3 linked regions of the Homo sapiens genome follow. The protein of the gene in region 1 purifies or fractionates together with the protein of each later gene. This does not show direct contact. Each region holds a gene or a part of one and is shown on either strand. Other genes may lie near its edges.

Evidence for each region.
Region 2: the proteins of SRPK3 (region 1) and SON purify together in Homo sapiens (affinity purification with mass spectrometry; 3 studies listed by BioGRID and IntAct, with this or other methods). This does not show direct contact.
Region 3: the proteins of SRPK3 (region 1) and CCDC86 purify together in Homo sapiens (affinity purification with mass spectrometry; 3 studies listed by BioGRID and IntAct, with this or other methods). This does not show direct contact.

The regions. Positions count from the first base shown.
Region 1 is NC_000023.11:153,776,166-153,784,040, forward strand, and holds the start of SRPK3 (SRSF protein kinase 3), read left to right. Parts: upstream 1-4,875; 5' UTR 4,876-4,921; coding exon 4,922-4,980; exon of another isoform or gene 4,981-5,050; coding exon 5,051-5,181; exon of another isoform or gene 5,182-5,339; coding exon 5,340-5,448; exon of another isoform or gene 5,449-5,577; coding exon 5,578-5,665; exon of another isoform or gene 5,666-5,955; coding exon 5,956-6,043; exon of another isoform or gene 6,044-6,606; coding exon 6,607-6,713; exon of another isoform or gene 6,714-6,787; coding exon 6,788-6,953; exon of another isoform or gene 6,954-7,060; coding exon 7,061-7,086; exon of another isoform or gene 7,087-7,586; coding exon 7,587-7,719; intron 7,720-7,808; coding exon 7,809-7,875. Other genes in the region: PLXNB3 (plexin-B3), read left to right, coding at 1-49, 191-294, 722-815, 1,043-1,215, 1,363-1,523, 1,783-1,930, 2,096-2,160, 2,231-2,306 and 2 more. UniProt on the Homo sapiens protein: Serine/arginine-rich protein-specific kinase which specifically phosphorylates its substrates at serine residues located in regions rich in arginine/serine dipeptides, known as RS domains.
Region 2 is NC_000021.9:33,567,028-33,574,053, forward strand, and holds part of SON (protein SON), read left to right. Parts: intron 1-129; coding exon 130-240; intron 241-1,943; coding exon 1,944-2,060; intron 2,061-5,523; exon of another isoform or gene 5,524-5,603; intron 5,604-6,280; coding exon 6,281-6,428; intron 6,429-7,026. UniProt on the Homo sapiens protein: RNA-binding protein that acts as a mRNA splicing cofactor by promoting efficient splicing of transcripts that possess weak splice sites.
Region 3 is NC_000011.10:60,837,171-60,845,128, forward strand, and holds the start of CCDC86 (coiled-coil domain-containing protein 86), read left to right. Parts: upstream 1-4,942; 5' UTR 4,943-4,954; coding exon 4,955-5,712; intron 5,713-7,958.

The DNA of each region.
Region 1 (7,875 bases):
AAGGGCACCCCCTTCTCCCAGAGGCCCTCAGTGCATGCCCTAGACCTTGGTGAGAGAGCCAGCCCTGCCCACCCACCCCAGGGACCCTTCCCTACCCCTCCGGCACCTGGAGCCCCTCAACTGTGTCTTACTATGAGTGTGGGGCGTGGAGAGCAGGCTGTAGACTATCTGCTTCCCTGACTCCCTCCAGAGTGGCGCTCAGGCCTGGCTGGTCACCTGACCCTATCGGACGAAGACTTGACCTCCGTGACCCAAAACCACTGGAAGAGACTCAACACCTTGCAACACTACAAGGTGTGAGCAGGGACGGGGCGAGGCAGGGCGGGGCTGGGGCGGGGCAGGGCGAGGCAGGGCAGGGCGGGGCTGGGGCGGGGCGAGGCAGGGCGGGGCTGGGGCGGGGCGAGGCAGGGCGGGGCTGGGGCGAGGCGGGGCAGGGCGGGGCTGGGGTGGGGAGGGGCGAGGCAGAGCAGGGCAGGGCTGGGGCGGGGCGAGGCACGGCAGGGCGAGGATGGGGCGGGGCGAGGCAGGGCGGGGCTGGGGCGGGGATGGGGGGCGGGGCGGGGCGAGGCAAGGCAGGGAAGGGCAGGGATGGGGTGGGGCAGGGTGAGGCGAGGCAGGGCAGGGCGGGTCTGGGGCGGGGAAGGGCGAGGCAGGGCAGGATGTGGGCGGTGTAGGCGCCTGGCTAGGGGTCAGCACAGCCTCCGCTCCCCATCTCTGCCAGGTCCCAGATGGAGCAACAGTGGGGCTCGTCCCTCAGCTGCACCGTGGCAGCACCATCTCCCAGAGCCTGGCCCAGAGGTGCCCCTTGGGAGAGAGTGAGTCCCTCGGCCCTGACCTGGGGCCACTGGAGTCCAGGCTGGGCAGGCAGAACTCCTGGCCATGCATCTGCCTCAACTTCATCCCCCACCCCACCGAGATCTTCTGCCCATCTCCTTCCTTTCTTCCAGTCCCCACACTGCCCCACCTTGTCGGGGGAGTGGACTGGGCATCCCAGGCCAGGGGCAGGGGGTATAGCCCTGAAGCCAGGCTCCTGTGCCCTCAGACATACCCACGCTGGAGGATGGCGAGGAGGGGGGGGTGTGCCTCTGGCACCTGGTGAAAGCCACCGAGGAGCCAGAAGGGGCCAAGGTGCGGTGCAGCAGCCTGCGGGAGCGCGAGCCAGCAAGGGCCAAGGCCATTCCGGAAATCTACCTCACCCGTCTGCTGTCCATGAAGGTTGGTGCGGCCTGGGTGGCTGGGCCTGAGAGGAGGCTCAGCCAGGGACCCCGACCGAGCCAGGGTGTGGGAGGGGCAGGGGCAGCCTCAGCCGTGGATGGCCCCCACACCCTGCCCTCCACACAGCCCTTATCCCCTGCCTCGCAGGGCACGCTGCAGAAGTTTGTGGACGACACCTTCCAGGCCATTCTCAGCGTGAACCGGCCCATCCCCATCGCCGTCAAGTACCTGTTTGACCTTCTGGATGAGCTAGCAGAGAAGCACGGCATCGAGGACCCAGGGACCCTGCACATCTGGAAGACCAACAGGTGCCTTTCCTGCTGCCCCACCCCTGCTGTGCATATGGTCCACTGAGTCCCAGAGAGACCAGGACATTCCCAGGGTGGATGCGCCCACCTGGGGTTTCTGGAACTTACAGGAAGATCTAGGGCCCAGGTCACCTAGGCCACCAGGCCAGCTTCCAGCGGCCCCTGGCTCCGAGTGTGTTGCCAGTAGGCTGGAGTACATGGGGCGGAGATCACGATGGCAGGCCAGGGCCTCACGCCCACGCCTGCCCTGCGCCCCCAGTCTGCTGCTGCGGTTCTGGGTGAATGCCTTGAAGAACCCACAGCTCATCTTTGATGTACGGGTGTCGGACAATGTGGACGCCATCCTTGCTGTCATCGCCCAGACCTTCATTGACTCCTGTACCACCTCGGAGCATAAAGTGGGCCGGGTGAGAGCAGTGCCAGCAGCAGCAGCTGGCAGGGGCTTGAGGAGGAAAGGCTTATGGGGGAAGCCTAGAGGGCTGTGCACAGAGCTCTGGGTGGGCAGTGGCAGCATCATGGGGGCACCTTCACCTCCGAGCTCATGCCTAGCGCCTCCCCTCCCTCCGGAGCAGGATTCCCCAGTGAACAAACTGCTCTACGCCCGGGAGATCCCACGCTACAAGCAGATGGTGGAGAGGTGGGTGTCAGAGGCATCGGGGCTGCGGGGAAGGGGGCTGCCCCACCCCTAACGAAGTCTGCTCCTCCAGGTACTATGCGGACATTCGCCAGAGCTCTCCGGCGAGCTACCAGGAGATGAACTCTGCTTTGGCTGAGCTCTCCGGGGTGAGGCATGGCCCGGGGGGTGCGCCTGTCCACACGTGGGTGGAAAGACTAGCAGAGCAGAGGGGGGAGACTTGGGGCTTGAGGACCAGGCTGGGACCTCACTGCCCCCCTCCACGTGGTGCCCCCAGAACTACACTTCTGCTCCCCACTGTCTGGAGGCTCTGCAAGAACTCTACAACCACATCCACAGGTACTATGATCAGGTGAGGCCCAGGGCACTCCGGAGGGGAGGCACAGTGGAGCGGGAGGCCCGTGGACCCTCCCGGGGGAGCAGGGGTGCCAGCCCATGCTGGCGGGGCCCAGGCTGGGGAAGGGACTCGGCTTTCATTCTGATTCCCCAGGGAGACGCCAGGCAGCCCCTGCTGGATCCCCAGGCTCCTGCGGTGATGGAAGCAGGGTGGGTGGCCCTGGGCCAGCAGGCAGAGGGGCAGGCTCAGACAGGCACCCTCCTCTGCCCGGGCAGATTATCAGTGCCCTGGAGGAGGACCCTGTGGGCCAGAAGCTGCAGCTGGCCTGCCGCCTGCAGCAGGTCGCCGCCCTGGTGGAAAACAAAGTGACTGACCTGTGAGCTCTGGCTCAGACAGCAGCAAGCCGGATCCACCAACACCGCAGCGCCTTATGACCCCGGAACCGAGCCAGCCACTGAGGGGAGCTGGCAGAGCCTGGGGGCACAGGGTGCAAAGCCAGGCACTGTGCCCAGCAGTGGGCTCCCTGCCTGCCACCTCCCCTGCCAGCCCACCCACCTTCCCCCCACCTGAGATTGTTTCTAATTTATAAGGATCCCCCTCCTTCCCCCTCTCCCCATTGTATTTATTTGCCTGCTGGAAAATCACATCCGGAAATAAAATAGAAATATGTCTTTTTATTTTATTTTGAGACGGAGTCTCGCTCTCTCTCCCAGGCTGGAGTGCAGTGGCGCAATCTCGGCTCACTGCAACCTCTTTTTCCCGGAGTTCAAGCAATTCTCCTGCCTCAGCCTCCCGAGTAGCTGGGACTACAGGCGTGTGCCACCACACCCGACTAATTTTGGTATTTTTAGTAAAGACAGGGTTTCCCCATGTCGGACAGGCTGGTCTCAAAACTCCTGACTTCAGGTGATCTGCCCGCCTCAGCCTCCCAAAGTGCTGGGATCACAGGCATGAGCCACCGCGCCTGGCCAGAAATGTCTTTTGACAAAGGGCCCAATCCCCAGCCCCTGCTGTTCCCTGCAGGAGCTGACTCAGTGCTCTCCTGACTGAGAGTCCCTCAGCCCCATGCCTATAACCTGCTACCCACAGACAAAGAGAGGCCATCAGGTACCCGGGCTTCACTTTCCCTCCCACTCTCTGACCTCGCTGGCCCCTCCAGCAATGCCTGGCCCACCCCTACCAGTTCACGGACCCTGGTACAGGGACACTGCACCAATATCTTGGGACAAACACCCTCTCTGCCGAGCCCCCTCCCTTTCATTGGGACTCCTCTGTCAGGCCCCAGCTGGCCTCCCGGCTCCACCCTCGCCTCTCCATTCCCTTGTCCTTGAAGTGGCCAGAGTGATCTTTTGCTGAGCAGAAGCTCAGTGACCACCCCCCAACCCCATATCACCCAAGCTCCACATTAAGCCTACAGACACCAGGCCTCTAGTCCTCGCCCTCGAACCATGCGGCAGCCGTGGCCAGCACGTGAAGGGCTGGAACGCGTCTTGGCCGCAGGCCTTGCCCCACTGTGCCCTGTGCTGCCCTGGATGCTTCTGGGGACCCAATTTCTCCTGGTCTCTCATGATGCAGCCCCTGGGTCACAGGCCCCTCAGTCACCACCGCACTCATGGGGAAGTGGCTATGGGCTTGCTTGTCCCCAGCAGTGAGCAGCTTCCTGCTGCCTCCCTCATGTCTGGCTATGGAGCAGCCCACGACAGGCACCTTGCAAATGGTGGAGAGGAAGAGCAGGCGCTGGGAGCCAGAGCGCCAGGCAGCGTCGCAGGAGCAGGTTCTGGGCTGGCAAGCTCCCAGGCCTCCCCTCAGCAGGCCTGTTGCCTCTGGTAGGGGAAATGAGGGGTCCCCAGTGACGCCACATTCAGAGGGCACTGGACTCCCAGTTGTCCTAGGGGCTGATGAAACATAGAAGAAGCAGGAAGTGGCTGGGAGCAGCCAGGGACAGGGTTCCCATGGGAATGAGAAGGGCACCTCCAGGAGGATGCCCACAGGGGCACAGGTGGTGGGGGCTTGGCCTAAGGACCAGGTTGCCAAGTGGAGCACATCCCCACAGTCCGCACCGGAGAACGGGAGCCCGACCTGGGGTACGGGCTGCTTCACCCCCGCGTGGACCTCCCCCTCAGCTGGGGTGCGGAGGCTCAGCCTGGGGGCCCAGTTGCCCCTGGTCCCCAAGCAGCAGCCCCCTCTGCCTCCAGGGTGGGCCTGGAGCAGGAGGGGGGCCTCTGCCCGGGGGCCGGGCTCTCTGGGGCCGCCGTCGCGCCGCCCCCTCCCCGCACCGCATACCTTGCCCACAGCCGAGCAGCTGGGAGGCTATTTATAAAGGCGGGTGAGATCAGCGGCCGGCCAAGGCTATAAATTCGCAGGCCGCGGCCGGGCCCCACAGGAGCAGCCGCCCGGGGCACCGGAGCTGCGGGCTGCGTGGCCGGGATGAGCGCCAGCACGGGCGGTGGTGGGGACAGCGGCGGCAGCGGCGGCAGTAGCAGCAGGTAGGGCTCGGCTGGGGCACCCGGAGCCCCTGGCGTCTCTCATGCCCACTGCCACTCACCCCACCCGCAGCTCACAGGCCTCCTGCGGGCCCGAGTCCTCGGGCTCCGAACTAGCCCTGGCCACACCGGTGCCTCAGATGCTGCAGGGCCTTCTGGGCTCCGACGACGAGGAACAGGAAGACCCCAAAGACTACTGCAAGGGTGAGACTTGGCCTTGGGGACATGCGGCCTCACGGCCACTGCAGGGACCCAGGGCAGTCCTGGGCCCACATGGGCCAGATGGTCAATGGGGCCGAGGTGTTCGGGGGCCCAGGGGAGTGAGAACCCCCTCCACCCCAATCTACATCTCCCCTGGGCAGGCGGCTACCACCCTGTGAAGATCGGCGACGTGTTCAATGGGCGGTACCACGTGGTGCGCAAACTGGGCTGGGGCCACTTCTCCACCGTCTGGCTCTGCTGGGACATCCAGTGAGTGCCTCCTTCGCCTCCGGGGCCCAGCACTGGCTGGGATCCTGTCCCTGGGCTTGCTTGGGGCCACCCTGATCCCCGCCGTGGGTCCTGCCAGGGCCACAGCCTACAAGGGTCTCGGTATTGCAGGCGCAAGCGCTTTGTGGCCCTCAAAGTGGTGAAGAGTGCGGGGCATTACACGGAGACAGCTGTGGATGAGATCAAGCTCCTGAAATGTGTGAGGCACCTCCCTACCCCACTCCCAGCTCCCCTGGAGCTGCCTGGGGCCTGGCAATGCGGGTGCAAGGCCTGCCGGGGCTCTGTGGGGCAGGGCGGGGCTCCCTGAGGGGCAGCCTCCAGCTGGCTGTGCCCAAGGGGGAGGATCTGGAGGAACAGGCGAGGGACAGGAGGGGTTGGCGGCCTTTCTTCCAGCAGGGCCCAGCTGGAGCAGGAGAAGGGTACACTGAAGGGAGCTGTGGGCTTCAGGGCAGGGTGGAACCATCTGTGGCCCCTTGGCTTTTGCTCCAGGTCCGGGACAGCGACCCCAGTGACCCCAAAAGAGAGACCATTGTCCAGCTCATTGATGACTTCAGGATCTCAGGAGTCAATGGAGTCCGTATCCTTTGCAGGAAGAGCAAAGCAGTGTGGCAGCCAAGGGCCGGCAAATGGGGGGGCCCTCGCTGCTAGAGCCTGTCTGCAGACCCGCACAATGGGCTTGCATCCCTCCCAGTAACGGGAGCCTCTGGCACGACCCCGCCCCCAGGTAACTGTGTTTACGTGGAGGCAGTAACAAGCTAGCGTTGATTGTCCATGGACGTTGCTATTATCCCCAAACGGCAGGTGCTGTCTCTGTGGCACTGCCTTCCCTTTGGGGGACTGCCAAGAGGCCCTATGGCATAACTAGCATGGGAGTGGGCTGGCCCGAGAGGCCTCTGTGCCTGCTCCTCCAGCGCCACCTCTAGGATGACCACAAAATGCACCATCCCAACTGGCATACCTGTTGAGACTGACAGGGACACTATCGATGATGACACCAGCATAATGGTGACCAGGACTGCCCAGGGGAGGCCCTGCCTCCCCACCTCCACACGGCCCAAGCCTTGCTGCTCCCCTAGCTGAGGGTGGGTGGGGCCTGTGCCGCAGCTGGTGTCCACTGGCCGCCCTTCACTCCCAGCCCAGATGTGTGCATGGTGCTGGAGGTGCTGGGCCACCAGCTCCTCAAATGGATCATCAAGTCCAACTACCAGGGCCTGCCCGTGCCCTGCGTGAAGAGCATCGTGAGGCAGGTGAGTGCCACCCACTGGGCTGCCCAGCCTGGCCTGGGCGGGAGTTGGAGGAGGTCAGGTGCGACTCTCTGCAGGTGCTGCACGGCCTGGACTACCTCCACACCAAGTGCAAGATCATCCACACGGACATCAAGCCCGAGAACATCTTGCTGTGTGTGGGGGACGCTTACATCAGGCGCCTGGCTGCCGAGGCCACGGAGTGGCAACAGGCAGGGGCGCCGCCCCCCTCCCGCTCCATAGGTACCAAGGGCCCACATGGGGCTGGGTCGGGGCCTCTGGGCCTGAACCCCTGCCTGAGTCTCTGTTCCTCCCTGTCCCCCCCCACCGCTCCCCACCTGCACTCCCAGTCAGCACTGCCCCCCAGGAGGTCTTGGTAAGTTGGGGGGCCCCTCTCTCCCATGCCTCCTCTCCCATCTGAGCCAACTGGAGGCCATCTCTGGAGCCACAGTGGCTCCACCCCCCACCTTCACGCACTCCCACGGTGGTAATCCCGAAAGGCTGGGTGGCTGGGCTGACGGTAATTCCCGGGGGGGGTCAAGTGCCCCAAACTGCTCTTGGTGAAAGGATGCTGTCTTCCCCGAATGGCCACTTCCGCCTGCCTTAGCTTGGGCTGAGAGGGGACAGAGAGCACCCTGAGGCGGGCCGGCCAGGTCTTCCCACTCCTAATGGAGCTGTGGGGAGTGGGGCCACAGGCGGGGAGGCAGGGAGAGTAGTGAGTAGCTGGTGCCAAGGGGCGCTGGCGCCACATTCTGGTGTCCATGGGAGCCCTGGGGCCCGGAGAGGCCTCTTCCCTGGCGGCTGTGCAGGGAAACCTCCACTTCATGCTGACTGGGGCGGGCGACAGGAACCCTGGGGTGACCCTGGCTCTGACAGCAGACCGGTAAGCTGTCCAAAAACAAGAGGAAGAAGATGAGGCGCAAACGGAAACAGCAGAAGCGGCTGCTGGAGGAGCGGCTGCGGGACCTGCAGAGGCTGGAGGCCATGGAGGCTGCCACCCAGGCTGAGGGTGAGGGGCCACAGAGGGTGATGGGCCGTGGAGCGCAGCAAAGGCTGCAAGACATCTGCTCAGCAGCTGCCTCCACCCCGTCTCCCCAGACTCTGGCTTGAGACTAGACGGGGGCAGCGGCTCCACATCCTCTTCAGGCTGTCACCCCGGGGGCGC
Region 2 (7,026 bases), on another chromosome or scaffold:
TTTCCAAGATTATTAGTATTATAAGACTATTATTTTGTTTTTGATATGTAGCAACTAAAGATATGAGTACTTTTCAGAATTTAGGGGACTATGGTAATTTGAGATAATTATCTCTGTTTTCTTTCTTAGCCTGTGGACATCTCTACAGCAATGAGTGAACGGGCACTTGCTCAGAAAAGACTCAGTGAGAATGCATTTGATCTTGAAGCCATGAGCATGTTAAATAGAGCTCAGGAAAGGGTATGTAGCAGTTTTTTAAAAAAAATTATTATTTACCATCAGCCAACTCACACCAATGTACCAGTTTTAATGTCTAAATAAGAATTTTGCTAACTAGATGGTTGAGTTGTAACATCCTTTACCTTATTTTCAATGTCTTATTTTAAATGAAAGTGATTCGAGGCCTGATCATTTATTCAATAAATGTTTATTGTTTACTATGTGGCAGGAACTGTTTCTTGAGAGAACAAAATAGAAAAATTTCCCTGTCCTCACAGAGTTTACAATCTGGTGTATAAAAACAACTAAGTGCCTACAACCCTATGAAATGTGTAGGTATTAATAGTTGCCATATTTCAGCCGAGAAAACTGAAGTAAAGGGTGGTTAAGGCCAGGCATGGTCGCTGATGCCTGTAATCCCAGCACTTTGGGAGGCCGAGGTGGGGGCAAGGAGTCAGGAGTTCAAGACCAGCCTGGCCAAGGTGATGAAACCCCATCTCTACTAAAAATACAAAAATTAGCTGGGTTTGGTGTTGCATGCCTGTAATGCCAGCTACTCAGGAGGCTGAGGCAGGAGAAATGCTTGAACCTGGGAGGCAGAGGTTGCAGTGAGCCAGGATCGCGCCACTGTACTCCAGCCTGGGCAACAGAGTGAGACTGTCTAAAAAAAACAAAAGAGTGATTAAGTGATATCCATAGTCACACAACTAATTAGTGGGGGAACTGGGATTCAAACCCAAGCAATCTGAATCTGGAGTCTGTGCTTTTAACAATGGACAGCCTCTCCATTTCATTTCTACTGTTTTATGGTAAATCAGTAAGTACATGTTCAGACAGGAAATACATTGCTGACAGTGCAAGGTGTTTAGTAAATCTAATTTGTGTGAATGACAGCTGATCTTTATCACAACAAATGTTGGTGACTGAAAAAAAGTATACAAGCTTCTTTAAAAAGTTGTTTTACGGCCGGGTGCAGTGGCTCACGCCTGTTATCCCAGCACTTTGAAAGGCCGAGGCGGGCGGATCAGTTGAGGTCAGGAGTTCAAGACCAGCCTGACTAACATGGAGAAACCCTGTCTCGACTAAAAATACAAAATTAGCCGGGCGCGGTGGCGCATGTTTGTAATCAATCCCAGCTACTCTGGAGGCTGAGGCAGGAGAATCGCTTGAACTCGGGAGGAGGAGGTTGCAGTGAGCAGACATCGCACCATTGCACTCCAGCCTGGGCAACAAGAGAGAAACTCCATCTCAAAAAAAAATAGTCGTTTATGTATTCAAGTGGACAGTTTCCTACATTTAAACTCTTTAAACCTGTGTCATGAATTTAGTCTGTATAAATGTCTCAAAGGAAGTAATTAAGAATCCAGGCTGTCATGACATGTATTACAATACATTTGTATGAGATAGGAAGGGAGGGTGGGGACCCATTGTCATATGAGCTCTTTTTTGCATTTTTAGTGTATCTGTGTGATAGTTTGAAGAATATTAACAGCTGTATTTTTTAGTAGCTGTGCTTTTAGATACATTTCAAAATCTTATTAATGGGATTCACTAAATGTTGTCAAACTGCTTCTTTAGAAAGTTTAGGCAAACATTTAATGTTAAATATGTTTTAAAAGTTAAATATTTAAGTCTGCTTTTCAGCCATTTTTAGTGAATTATTACCAGTGATGTTTTAATCAGGTAATTTTACTTAGTTAACTGAGACTACTTCTTTTCTTCAGATTGATGCCTGGGCTCAGCTGAACTCTATTCCTGGCCAGTTCACAGGAAGTACAGGAGTACAGGTTTTGACACAAGAACAGTTGGCCAATACTGGTGCCCAAGCCTGGATTAAAAAGGTACACAGTATATGCACATATGAAAGTGTCGAACAAAAAGTTTAAATTTTTTGGAAACTGTTTATTAAAACTGCATGAAAAGACCAGTGACTCTAACCAAAGTTCCAAGTAAATTTGCTATGTGTATATGCTCCAGGGCGGACACTGAAGACGGACTGGATTCATGAGAAAATGGCAAATGTATAAATGTGGCTCAAGAGCCACTAACTTATAAGGTTATTTTAAAAATTGTTACTGCTGCTTTTGAAGGGGTGATTTAACTTTATTTTGAACGCTAATAGTGTATCAGGTGCTGTTCAGAATATTCCACAGTTCCTGCTGGACTACTAACCTAATCATTTCAAAGCAGTGGTTCTCAAATTTTTCTTCATCATGGGATACTTTATTACAGGTTTATTTTTAGTGGATCACTGCCCCCAAGAGCCCTCTACCACCTTAATTTTCCATTCCTCTATTCCTTTGCCCTCGCACCCCACCCGCTTCATTAGTGCCTGTGCCTTCTTGTAAGATCTCTTGGCCCCCGTTCCTCACTCCTCTTGTGACCTGTAGCCCCAGGACCTTTTGGTTGTCAGCTGCTGGTTACAGCAAGTGGTTGGGAGGCCCTAGTATTAGCTCTGCATGTGGTGATCTTGCCATGGGACTGGAAGCCTGAGGGAGGATGGCTGGAGTGGGGTGGGCTGTGGTGAAGGGGATGGGATGGAGATTAATCTGTGGACCACCATTTAGGCCCTAGTGGCCTCTGGTGATCCACAGGCTCAATTTGAGAACCACTAATTTCATGACAAAACAGATATGTAAGACCTAAAATCAAGGGAGAGAATGGACGCCTCGTGCTACGAAGATGTAGGTGCATCTGGTTTCAGATTCTGCAGTGAGACCTGTGAACTCCACCTACGGCTGCCTCATCATTGGGGGAGTCTTAGGTGGCTAAGAAGGGCATTCTGAAGAAACGCGTTGTGGTGAAGGGACAAAGCTTGGTTGGATGGGTGATGGGAAATTTGTTACAGGAGTACTGGCAGCATAGCAGTGCTGAAACTGGGAGGCCGCGTGGTCTAATGGATTGGGAAGGTTTCTTTATCCTGTTGTACTCCTGACTCCTTGTGTAATCATGGGCAAGTAACTCTTTGGAATTTCAAAGTCTCTGAGGTGTCTAGTGGTAATCAGTAACGTGATGGTTACCTATAGAGAGTTGCTATGAGTGCCAGTGAATGAGCTGAATTTCTGAAAAATGAGACATTGGTTGCTTTGTGTATTTTAATCTTGTAACATTTATTTCAATTTTGATAGCTTTATCTTTGTTGATCTTACTAACAAATTAATATGAAACATCATGTATACTCATTATGCCTGCCTTTTTTTGGGAAGTAGTTGCACTGATGTGTATAGTGAGTACACAGTTAGATTCATTAAGAAATTACAATTTCTGCAGTTTGCTGAGGGTTGGTGTTAGAATAAAGGGTGAAAATGTATATAGCAAAATATTTTAAAGATTGGATTAATCTTGGACTTCTATATTATAGTTACTATGAAAGTGATTTATATAATATTTGAAAAAATGTCTTTCATCTTTGGAAGAACTATAAATGTACATCTATTTCTTTAGTTTTAATTCTTTAATACTATTTAGTCTTGAAGCTAAGTACTCAGCCAGTATTTCAGGAAGTTAGAAATAAAGCTTATGGGTGTTAAAATAGGCACATAATACAGAGTCATGTACACTGCTAGGTAGAAACTTCTGAATGTGCTTCCATTACAAAATTTTGGTCTTTATCTAATGATGTGCTGATCCATAATGTTTGTATACTTATAAATGTGTTAATAACTTAAATAACTTTTAAAAAGTGAATCTTTTACTGACTCAATTGGTTTTCCCCTAAAATAATTTCTTCTGGTATTTGCAGTCTTGTAGGCAGTTAACAGACTTTAATAACTTTAAAATGTTTAGTAGCACCTTGAAAAAAGGCTTCAACTTTATATTTTATGTAAGATATACTTTGGGAAGCAAATTATTTTGATAAATTATGAGATAAAGATATGTTCAGACCAAATTTTAAATTATAGATAAAAGTAGCACTTAAAGGAAAAGATTCATTTGTATAGAATTACTGAAGAATATTTGATGCTAGTATCAACTAAAAAAGAAACTTTTGAAAATTAAAAATGGGCCACAACATGTAGAAGTCATTAGGCAGCTGAAAATTTAGGATGTATGATCCATGTTAAATATCACAAATATTGTCTACTCATTAAATGTTTAGTTGTGTTTAGAAAACCTGTCAAACGATCATTTTGGCTCTTCTTTAGTATAGTCCAGCATCTGCCTTATGTGTTAAAAAACACATGGAATACCAACATCCTCCGTGTTCTTTTTAGTTTGTTGCAGTGTATTTTTAGATTACAAAAAAAGCAAAGTTTTATCAGTAGTCTCATTAATCAGTAAAACATTTAAAGTAGTTCGTTTAAAAGAAATTTTATTTCTAGAATGGAATGATTTGGATGTGACCTGATAAATACAGTTTGTTATTGTGGTCTCATTAAATTAATCAGCTTTTTCACACTGGGGTAAAGAAACAGATGATGATACTAGGGAATGGAAACAAAATTGGAAACCTGGGTTATTTGGGGATTTATATTGTACTCTGCACAGTTGCCCTTTTTTTTAGGCGTGTTCCCTGGAAAAGAGGGACGGATGAACCTGGAAGTAAGTAAAAGACATTCTAGGTGTGTAGCATCAAGGCAGTTAATATCCAAGCATCAGCTTTCTCTTTATACATCTACACTGCATGGCCTGCACCAAATAAGGAACTGAACCAGGGGTATGTTTTTACCTCCACAGCTGCCTCCTTCCATCAGAGCACCTTGATGAACTTAATGTCTAGTCACACGTCATTGGCATGTTTTCTCCCCAGCATTTAATTACAAAGCTGGGAAACAAAAGATGATAGATACAGTTTTACTACTGCATACAAACATTTCTTTTTTACATTCAGTATTAACTTATCAATATAGGAGATGTGCATACTATTTCCTGAGCTACTGAAGTTTTTTTACTCTCTCTGTTGATAAGTTAATGACTTTTGCTATATTATATATTTATATATATATATATATATATATTTGGTAAGAGAACATAAAAACCTAAAATTTAGTAACAAGGGGAAAATAAAGCATGATTTGGAGATATGTTTCAAATTTTTAAAAAATGACCATAAAGATCAACAGTACAACTTAATACTGTTTGCTATATGTACATGGATGCCCTTTAATAAGAGGCATTGAATATTTCTTAACCTGTAAAAATAACTGTTGACCATGCTAATGTATATATACTTGTGCATCTTAGGACATTAAGTGGTTTGCTGCTTTGATGGAAATTATGGTTCAGTGGGTTGGATACAAGAGAGATGACTGTTCACAGAATAACCTGTGAACTTTCACCCCTCTGTATGGAAACTTGTTTCAGGGCCAAATCCTTGTAGCTGTCTTCTTGCCCCGGTCAGTGCCAGCCGTACTATTCACAACACTGCTGCTACCGAGGCCTAGGTATGTAAACATTTAAGGAGTTTTTTAAAAGTCTTTTAACATCAAGCTAGGTTTTAAAAGAATTCAAATTCATTTTGGCATACTTACAGGATATTTTATGTGATTGTTTTCTATTTGTTACTGTGTAAATTTCAAGAGTTTTTTTTTTTTTTTCTGCTTTAGGGATTTTCTAAGTAAAATATTTATACTTGCTTTATAGTAGAATGGGGAAGAAAACTTTGGATGACAACAGTATGCTTCTTCAGTGTCTAAACTATTTCTAAGTGATTTCTGGGCTTTATTCATAAACTAGGTACACCTGGGACAATTAATATCATTGATTGTTTTAACATTGCCTTCTTTTTATTTTGCAAGCTAAGAAGAGATACCAGTGAACCTAAATAGTGGACGAAAACAGGAGTGTTCTAATTTTTTTTTTTTGAGGGGGGCACGAGGGCTACTGTTTCAAAACTGCCATTTACTTGTCTTATTTGACTTCCAAAATACTATTACGTTAATGTGCAAATAATCAGAACATACACACTACAGTATGTATAAAGTATAGAGGAATTTACATTTAATTGCTATAACAGATCTAGAAGTAAAGTAAGATTCCTCTTTTTAGAAAGTAAACAATGAATCTGTCACCAAGTTCTAACTGTAAAATGGGGACATTTTACCTTTCTTTCTTTGGATAGGATCAGTTCTTAAGAGCAGCCCCGGTAACTGGAGGAATGGGAGCCGTTTTGATGAGAAAAATGGGCTGGAGAGAAGGAGAAGGATTAGGAAAAAACAAAGAAGGCAATAAGGAACCCATCCTAGTTGATTTTAAGACAGACCGAAAAGGTAACAAGTTCTTTTTTGGAATGTTTATTAACGTCTCCTTTAACATTACCTTTAATATATCCTTTTGAACCCAGTGATACTGAACTGAAGGCACTTCTTGTATATATACAGGTATTTGTCAGAAAAAACATTAACCCCTTTTGGGGTTCACAGAGCAGCTTATTTTTATATAACTATGGATAGAGACACCAGTTTGAACTTTTAAAAGGCACCTTTTGTTATGCTAGTTGCTAAATATGGAAATGTGTATATATCTAATTTTATTATTACACCTCCAAATTCAACTGGATTTCATGTTTAGAAAACAGGATTTCCATTTTATTTTCTCTTGACAAGGAACCATCCTTTTTTCTAGAGTTTAGTTTATTTTTTGTTAGATATTTTAGCACATCTTCATTATTTCCTATTACAATACTGGTTTAGTCTAGATTTCATAAACCCTGTTTGCTTTTTTCTTCCAAGCTCAGTAGTTAAGTTGGGTTAGAGTATAGTAGACCAGCTGCTGACAATAATGTTACTTCTTCCTGTTGCCTTGTGTTAAGGCATCTTGGAACTGTTAGCATTGACTGTATTTTCCTTTTACCTTCAGATACCTGGG
Region 3 (7,958 bases), on another chromosome or scaffold:
TCCCCCATCCCTTGACCCCTCTCCTGAGGTCTCTTCCCACCTCCTCTCAAGGGTCTGAAACTGATAATGAGCTGTTAGAAGCACGCAGCATAGATGAGCCTCTGAGATAAGCATGCACGGTAAGAACTCACACGATCACCCTGGTAGTGTTCCACGTTCTCAGTGGCACCTGATTCAAAGTACCTAGAAGCAGCTCTTCACACGTGCAAAAGAGAAAGTGGGGGTAACTACTGAAAGAGGAGAGTTGGGCTCCCAGAGAGGTAAAAACAAAATGCAACAGGGACAGAGGAAGAATCCTGCACTATCCGAAAAAGCCAACGGTTCATGTCCAAGATCAGAGCAAGGGGATGTAGGGAGCAGGAGAGCCTGACAGCCACGGGAACCAGACTGAGGGTTTCAATCAGATGTCCATGGGGTGGCTTGAATGTGATCTTGACCACACTGATACAGATCATGGAGTAGGGAGGTGACAAATCCACTCAGCCGTCCATGGGGCAGTCAACCTTAGTGCCACAAGGAGCTCTGGGCCCCACATTCTGGAAGCATTGTAGAGAACTGGTGTCTTTCCCAAAGACTTATCATGTTATGGGAGGAACAGGAGATGCTTAACCTGGATAAAAGACAATTCTGGAAAAGCTACAAGAAAACTGACTTCAAATACTTGAGAGAGCTTTGAGCAAAAGACAGAGCAGCTTGGATCTTTGTAGCACAATGAAGATTAGCTGAGGCCCAGTTGCACCTCTGCCCATCTGGGTCCTGCCTTCACTCCTGCCATGCTCAGCAACATCCTCGTTGCCAATGACACCCCAGACTGAGTCAGCCCCATGTCCCAGTCCTAGGCCTGGTGGAGGTGGAGGTTTAGGGCTTAGAGTCAAGAAGCCCTGAGCTCCAGACCTCACCCTGCGCCCTTTTTGTGTCACCCTGGCCCCGAAGCGCAGCCTCTCTGGGAGTGGGATTTCCTGGTCAGTACAATGAGGATGATCACCCCAGCCCTGTAAGGTCCTAATGAGGATCCATTCATTCAACAAATACATATCAAGTACCGTGCTCCTGCTGAAAATCACCCTCCCGAACCGGAGCTCTGGGGAGCACAGGAGCACCCAGAAGAGGTCTGGCGCGTGGTAAGTGCTCAGTTAATGCTGCTGATGACCGCCAGGGGCCCTTTCCCTGCCCTTCTCTCAGAGTTGGCTTCTGGAGAAACACAGCCTGAAACACCGGGGCAAGCAATGATTGGTCCAGGCATTGTTTCAAGCACTCTGCAAGTACACCACCACACCAGGCTCTTCTGAAAATTTCAGGAGTCTCCTCTGGGCCTCTGCACACCATGTATAATGACAATGACAAACTGAGCTCAGGTGGGAGTAGGGGGTTCTGGGCCAGAGCCCACCTGATGCTGAGGTTGACAAAGTGTCTCCAAGTGTCTGGGGGCCACCCAAAGGCCTCCTCTAAAACACATCTCCCTCTCTCTGGTGAAAACCTGAGATCACCCTCTGAAGTATTTCAGGCAAGGCTAGGTGTTGAACAGAAAGCCATGGGGACCCAGGTCTCTGACATCTGGGGACTGTCAGACCCTCTCAACTGTAGCACCCCTTAGCTGGGGGGAGGTCAATGACTCAGAGGAGAACACCTGATCCTATCTTCCATCCATCTGCCAGCGCTTGGTTTCCATCAGTCAGCAGATCTCAGGTTACATAAATAAACTGGTATTGCTGATTCGGCACATTCTGCACGATGGTGTGTGCCAGGTGGTACCCACCTCCTCCCAGCACACAGACCAGAATCAGTGTGACGAATAGGTGAGCAAGGCCCATGTGGGGGCAGCTGCAAGGCAGCTAAGCATGCCACCTCTGGAACCACAATCCTGGCTCCTGAATGTGCCGCTGTCTGATTTTGGGCAAGCACCTTAGCCTTCCCATGCCTGATTCCTTGCCTGGATAACAGGCAGATTTACTGTTAAGAGTTGTGGCTCTGGAATCAGACAGTCTAGGTGTGGATCTTGCCTCTACCACTTATTTGCTGTGTGACCTTTACAAGTGTCTCAGCCTCTCTGTGCCTCAGTCTTTTTTTTTTTTTTTTTTTGAGACAGAGTCTTGCTCTGCCACCCAGGTTGCTGTGCAGTGGCACGATCTTGGTTCACTGCAACCTCTACCTCCCAGGTTCAAGCAATTCCCCTGCCTCAGCCTCCTGAGTAGCTGGGACTCGAGGCGCCTGCCACCACACCCAGCTAATTTTTGTACTTTTAGTAGAGATGGGGTTTCATCATGTTGGCCAGGCTGGTCTTGAACTCCTGGCCTCCAGTGATCCGCCCACCTTGGCCTCCCAAAGTACTGGGATTACTACAGGTGTGAGCCAGCGCACCCAGCCTCTCAGTTTCTTTATCTGTAAACTGGGAGTAATAACAACTGCACCTGCCTCACAGGATTGTTGGGAGAAGCATTAAGAAATGGATTTGTACTTGGAGAGTACTTGAAACAATGCCTGGACCAATCATTGCTGGCACCAATGTTTCAGGCTAGGTTTCTGCAGAAGCCAACTCTGAGAAGAGGATTAAGTACAATATTTGTCTGCTCTGAGAATGACCTCAGCAAGCATCTATAAGAAAGTGGGGAAGTGAGACAGGGATGAAGCCAAAAGAGGGTCCATGAGCAGATTACCTTTGTGGGCAATGCAAGTTCAATCCTGTTGGTGGCCTCTGGGGGCTACAGAGAAGCCCCTCAGTATCCTACCACCTAAAGGCAAGAAAGCTGTGATGTAGAAAGCTGCAATAAAAGCAAAGGAGTGGCCAGGCACAGTGGCTCACGCCTGTAATCCCAACACTTCAGGAGGCCGAGGCAGGAGGATCACTTGAGCCCAGGAGTTCAAGACCAGCCTGAGCAACACAGGGAGACCCCGTTTCTACAAAAAAAAAAAAATAGCCAGGCATGGTGGCATGAGCCTGTGGTGCCAGCTACTCAGGTGGGAGGATCCCTGGGGCCTGGGAGGTCAAGGCTGCAGTGAGCTGTGATTGTGCCACTGCACTCCAGCCTGGACAACAGAGCAAGACCCTGTCTCAAAAATAATAATAATTTTTAAAAGAAAGCAAAGGAGTGTAAGGAGACAGGGTCCCAACAGCGATCGCCACACCAGGCGCTTCTGAAAATTTCAGGAGTCTCCTCTGGGCCTCTGCACACCATGTATAATGACAATGACAAACTGAGCTCATGTGGGAGTAGGGGGTTCTGGGCCAGAGCCCATCTGATGCTGAGGTTGACAAAGTGCCTCCAAATGTCTGGGGGCCACCCAAAGGCCTCCTCTAAAACACATCTCCCTCTCTCTGGTGAAAACCTGAGATCACCCTCTGAAGTATTTCAGGCTAGACTAGGATATGATCCAATCGGCACTGGAGAGTGATCCCTCCAGCTGGGGACAAGAGCTTAGGAGGCAGGGCAAGCCAAGGGGGACTGGAGCAGGGCAGAGGGGCATACAGTCTCCTCCAGCACTCTGGCAACACCTGCCGGGCTTGGTTCTGAGTGTCAGATCATTGGGGTCTCCAGGCAGGGGCAGGGCATTTAAGGAACTGAATGGAACTCACTCCTCTGACAGTTGGGGGGTGGAAGAGCTGGGCAAGGAGGTGTCCCGGCTGCTTCTGCTGTGGACAGCTGCATGGCCGGAGAGGAGCAGTGAGGCAGGCAAAGCCCCCCTGCAGGGGTCTCCTTGACTCAGGAACATGAGGAAGATGAGGACACTCTGATCCCTGATATTCTTGGACAATTTCCCAGGCCCTCTCACAAGCCCGCAGCTGGAGAAACAATGGTTTCTAAAAGAAACCACTGGAATGTCAGACGGGGCCCTGGGACCTTTAATGGCCAACCCCAGGCAGTTCCAAGAATTACACAACTGGGCCACTTCCAAGATGTTCTTCCTAAGAAGCATGCTGTAAGTAAATCAAAGCCCCACTCCTAGGTCTCACACGAAAGTCTCCACAGCCCCACATTCCCCAACCCCACATCCCGAGAGTCTTCTCTAGGCCTTGGGAGGTCCAGAAGTCAACACCTGCTCACTGGTGAGGTCCCAAAGTGCTTAGTAAGCAAAGTACATTTACAGGTGAATAGCAAGGGAAGGGAGGGGAGGCGAAGCAGGTTCACACACGAGCAAAAACCACTGTCTGGGCTGAAAGGAAGATCGGAGATGATCCAACCCGTTTCTAGAACTGGGGTAGAAGAAGAGGGACGTGGGAGGATATGCAGCTGGTCGAGGGCCCAGGTGAGCCACAGGACAAAGGTGGTGCATCTTATTGGTACCTCAACTTCCCTCACAAACGTTGAAAACGCTGAAAAGGGAGGGAGAGCTATGGATTATATACGGAAGCACAGGACGGAAGAATCAAGAGTGTGAACAATTAACACAGAAAAGACCGATCTTCCACCTCCAGGACCCCCAGGTAGCAGTCCCTCAGGTAGGTGGGAGGAGGACTCTGACAGGATCATTTGGGATGCACGAAGCTAGTGCAAAATGACCCCTATTACAAATGAGAAAACAGGCCCAAGGAGGGCAGGACTCTGCCCAACTGCACCGGAGTTGGCTGCAAAACATCCACTGGGCCTTGCCTATGGGCTCCTCGGACCTTTTTTCGACTCTGTTCTCTCCCTGAAATGGGTCCTCCCACTTTCCCTTTTCTACTTGCTCGCTCTTCTTTCCCCAGGAAACTTTGCAAGAAAGGCAAAAGCGAATCCCAGGAAAAAGACTGGCTCATCAATCACATGTTGACTGCGCTCGCGCGAATTGCGCATGCGCATGCTGAGCCCCACTCTCCCCAACCCCGGTCCCGCCTCTCCACCCCTCACCAACATGGCCGCCTCAGCAACAGCCCCCCTCCTGTGCGTCACGGACGCGGCGACTCCTGACGTCATAGGAAGGCGCCGGTTTCGGCGGGGGCTGCACGTGCGCAGGGGTGTGGAAACTTACCGGCTGAGCCATGGATACACCGTTAAGGCGCAGCCGACGGCTGGGAGGCCTAAGGCCCGAATCCCCCGAGAGCCTCACCTCAGTTTCGCGGACGAGACGGGCCCTTGTGGAGTTCGAGTCGAACCCAGAAGAAACGAGGGAGCCCGGGTCTCCTCCGAGTGTGCAGCGGGCTGGCCTGGGGTCCCCCGAAAGGCCGCCGAAGACAAGCCCAGGATCACCCCGTCTGCAGCAGGGTGCAGGCTTGGAGTCACCCCAAGGGCAGCCAGAGCCAGGCGCAGCGTCCCCCCAGCGTCAGCAAGACCTACACCTGGAGTCGCCTCAAAGACAGCCAGAGTACAGTCCTGAATCCCCACGATGTCAGCCGAAGCCAAGTGAGGAGGCACCAAAGTGTTCTCAGGACCAGGGAGTACTGGCCTCGGAGTTGGCCCAGAATAAGGAGGAGCTGACCCCGGGGGCCCCCCAGCATCAGCTACCGCCGGTCCCAGGATCACCAGAGCCTTACCCCGGTCAGCAAGCTCCCGGTCCGGAGCCCTCTCAGCCACTACTGGAGCTGACACCCAGGGCACCTGGCTCCCCCCGGGGTCAGCATGAGCCGAGCAAGCCACCTCCAGCTGGGGAGACGGTGACAGGCGGCTTCGGGGCAAAGAAGCGAAAAGGTTCTTCATCCCAGGCCCCAGCGTCCAAGAAGTTGAATAAAGAGGAGCTTCCTGTAATCCCGAAGGGGAAGCCCAAATCGGGGCGAGTGTGGAAGGACCGCTCCAAGAAAAGGTGAAGTGGGGGACAGCATGGACAGGGGTGGCGTTCTCTATGGTGTTGGGACCCCGCCTTTGCCCTGCTGCAGCCTGGAGAATAGCCCCAGGGTTAGAGAGAGCTCACGTTAGTGGGGATGTTAGCAAACAGGTAATTACAATCAGAATGTGGTAAAATGCCCTGGGATCCCGGAGAGGGTGGGGCCAGGCCCTCAAAGATCAATTTCTCTGATGCCTTTCCTCCTCAGGGTCCCTATGGGCCTCTCCTGTAGCACCTCAGGTCTGTATTCGTTCAACAGACATTTACCGTTGTCTGCCCTCTCTAGTGAGAGAAGCAGAAGCAAGTAAACCAGCCATTACTTGATCAAAGCAGTGAGGTCTTCATCCAATATAGTCTATTACAGTTATTTGCCTTTAAGATAAAAAGTATTACTGAGCACTGATTATATAAGGATTTACCAGTCAACAGCCTTAATAAGGATTTACCAGTCAACAGCCTTTCAAACATGGAACAGCATGTGTCATCACGCTTAATCTGCACGTCAGCCCTGTGAAGCAGGCGGTGTTATTATTCCTGTTTTTTGTGTGAGGAAACCAAGGCTAAATGAGTGGTAGGCACAGGACCTGAGCACAGATCTGATTCCGAAGCCTGTGTGCAAAAAACCCCTTTACCCAATCCCTGTAGATCCACCTTGAATTGGATTGCGACCTTCTTAAGGGGCAGGCACGAGATCTTTCTTGTCTTTCTGTGCCAAGGGCATAGTAAATGCCCAATGAATGCTTATTTAATGAAGGAACGAAGTAGCTCATCTGAAGAAGGAAGAGTGTAGGCTGCCATGAAGGAGAGGTGTGGGATTCAGTTCCAATTCGAGCTAATGGGAACCACAGGGGAGAGTCAGGGATGTATGCCTGTGAGGGACCATGAGGAAGGAGGGTGTTTTTAAGGAAGAAGCTGACTCTGTGCCAGGCTTCGTGCTAGGCCCTTTTCTTGTATCCTTAAAACCCTAGGCTGTGGATATTATCCCCCCACCCCTGATGAAACAGAAGAAACTGAGGCTTACAGAGTAATTTACTGCAAGTCTCCCATGGGAGAGACTTTGAGGCTAGAGTGACTGTAACTGTTGGAGAAGTGGATGATGGCACTACCCCTCTGCCCTGTCCCAGGGGGTCACAGGAGAATGGCAGGGCCGTTGATGGCCATGTGGAACTGGAGGAGGCTGGTTCAGGTGGGAAGAGGGTGATGAGCAAGTTGAGCGGGTGAAGCTTGGGGTCCTGGTACTCACGCTGCAGGTGGGGAGATGGGCTTGCTGAGCTAGAGGGGGCTGGGCCCATGCAGAGGTGGGGAGAAGGGAGGGGCCCACACAAGACACAGGATCAGCAGCTGGAGCAGAGTAGGAGGCCACAGATCACTTGACCAAGAAGTCTGGAGAGAGGGTGTGTGGTTCCAGCTCCCTGCCCAACTGCAGACCCGTCCTGACTCACTGTTGCTCACTCAGAGCATGCACTCCAGACTCCTTAATGAGGCCGGCAGGCCCACCCTCCTCTCCCCTCCATCACTAGAGCTTCCACACTGTTGTCCCCTCCATGTTCCTCCCATGTGTGACGCTCCCTCCTTCCTCAGCGCCTTCACACGTGCTGTTCCCACTGTTTGAAAGGCTCTTTCCCTGGCCAGTCCCCCACTCATGTTTCAGGGCTCAGTTCAAATGTCACCTCCTCTGAAAAGCCTCTCTGGCTTATCCAACTAGGGTTAAGTCCCCATGCTTTATGTTATCATTGTGTGCTGTACTTCTCTTTTGTAACACCTCCATTTGCACAAATGCTTATTTATTTGTGATTCTTATTGACTGCCTGTTTTCCTTTAAACCGGAGGCTCCGTGAGAGTGTAAGAGTGGGGACTTACCTATCATGACTAGATGCCCCAGAGCCCAGTGCAGGGTAGGGCACTAAGCTGAACAAGTGGATGAATTGAGGACAGAAGGTAGTTCATTCATTCATCAACCAGTTGCTCAGATCTTGGGTAAACATGTCTGTGAACAAAAAGTCTCTGCTCTCCTGAAGCAAACATTCTAAATGTGGGAAACAGATAAAGAACAAGTACACACATGATATGTCAGTAATAAAGACTTCAAAGAAAAATAAACCAGGATGGGGACCAGAGAATAACAGGGAGGGCAGGGTATTGCCACAGTGCTCAGAGATGGCCTTGCAGATAAACAGGTCTGAGCAGAGGGAGCCGGGCAGAGATCTGGGGAAACAGTATCCAGG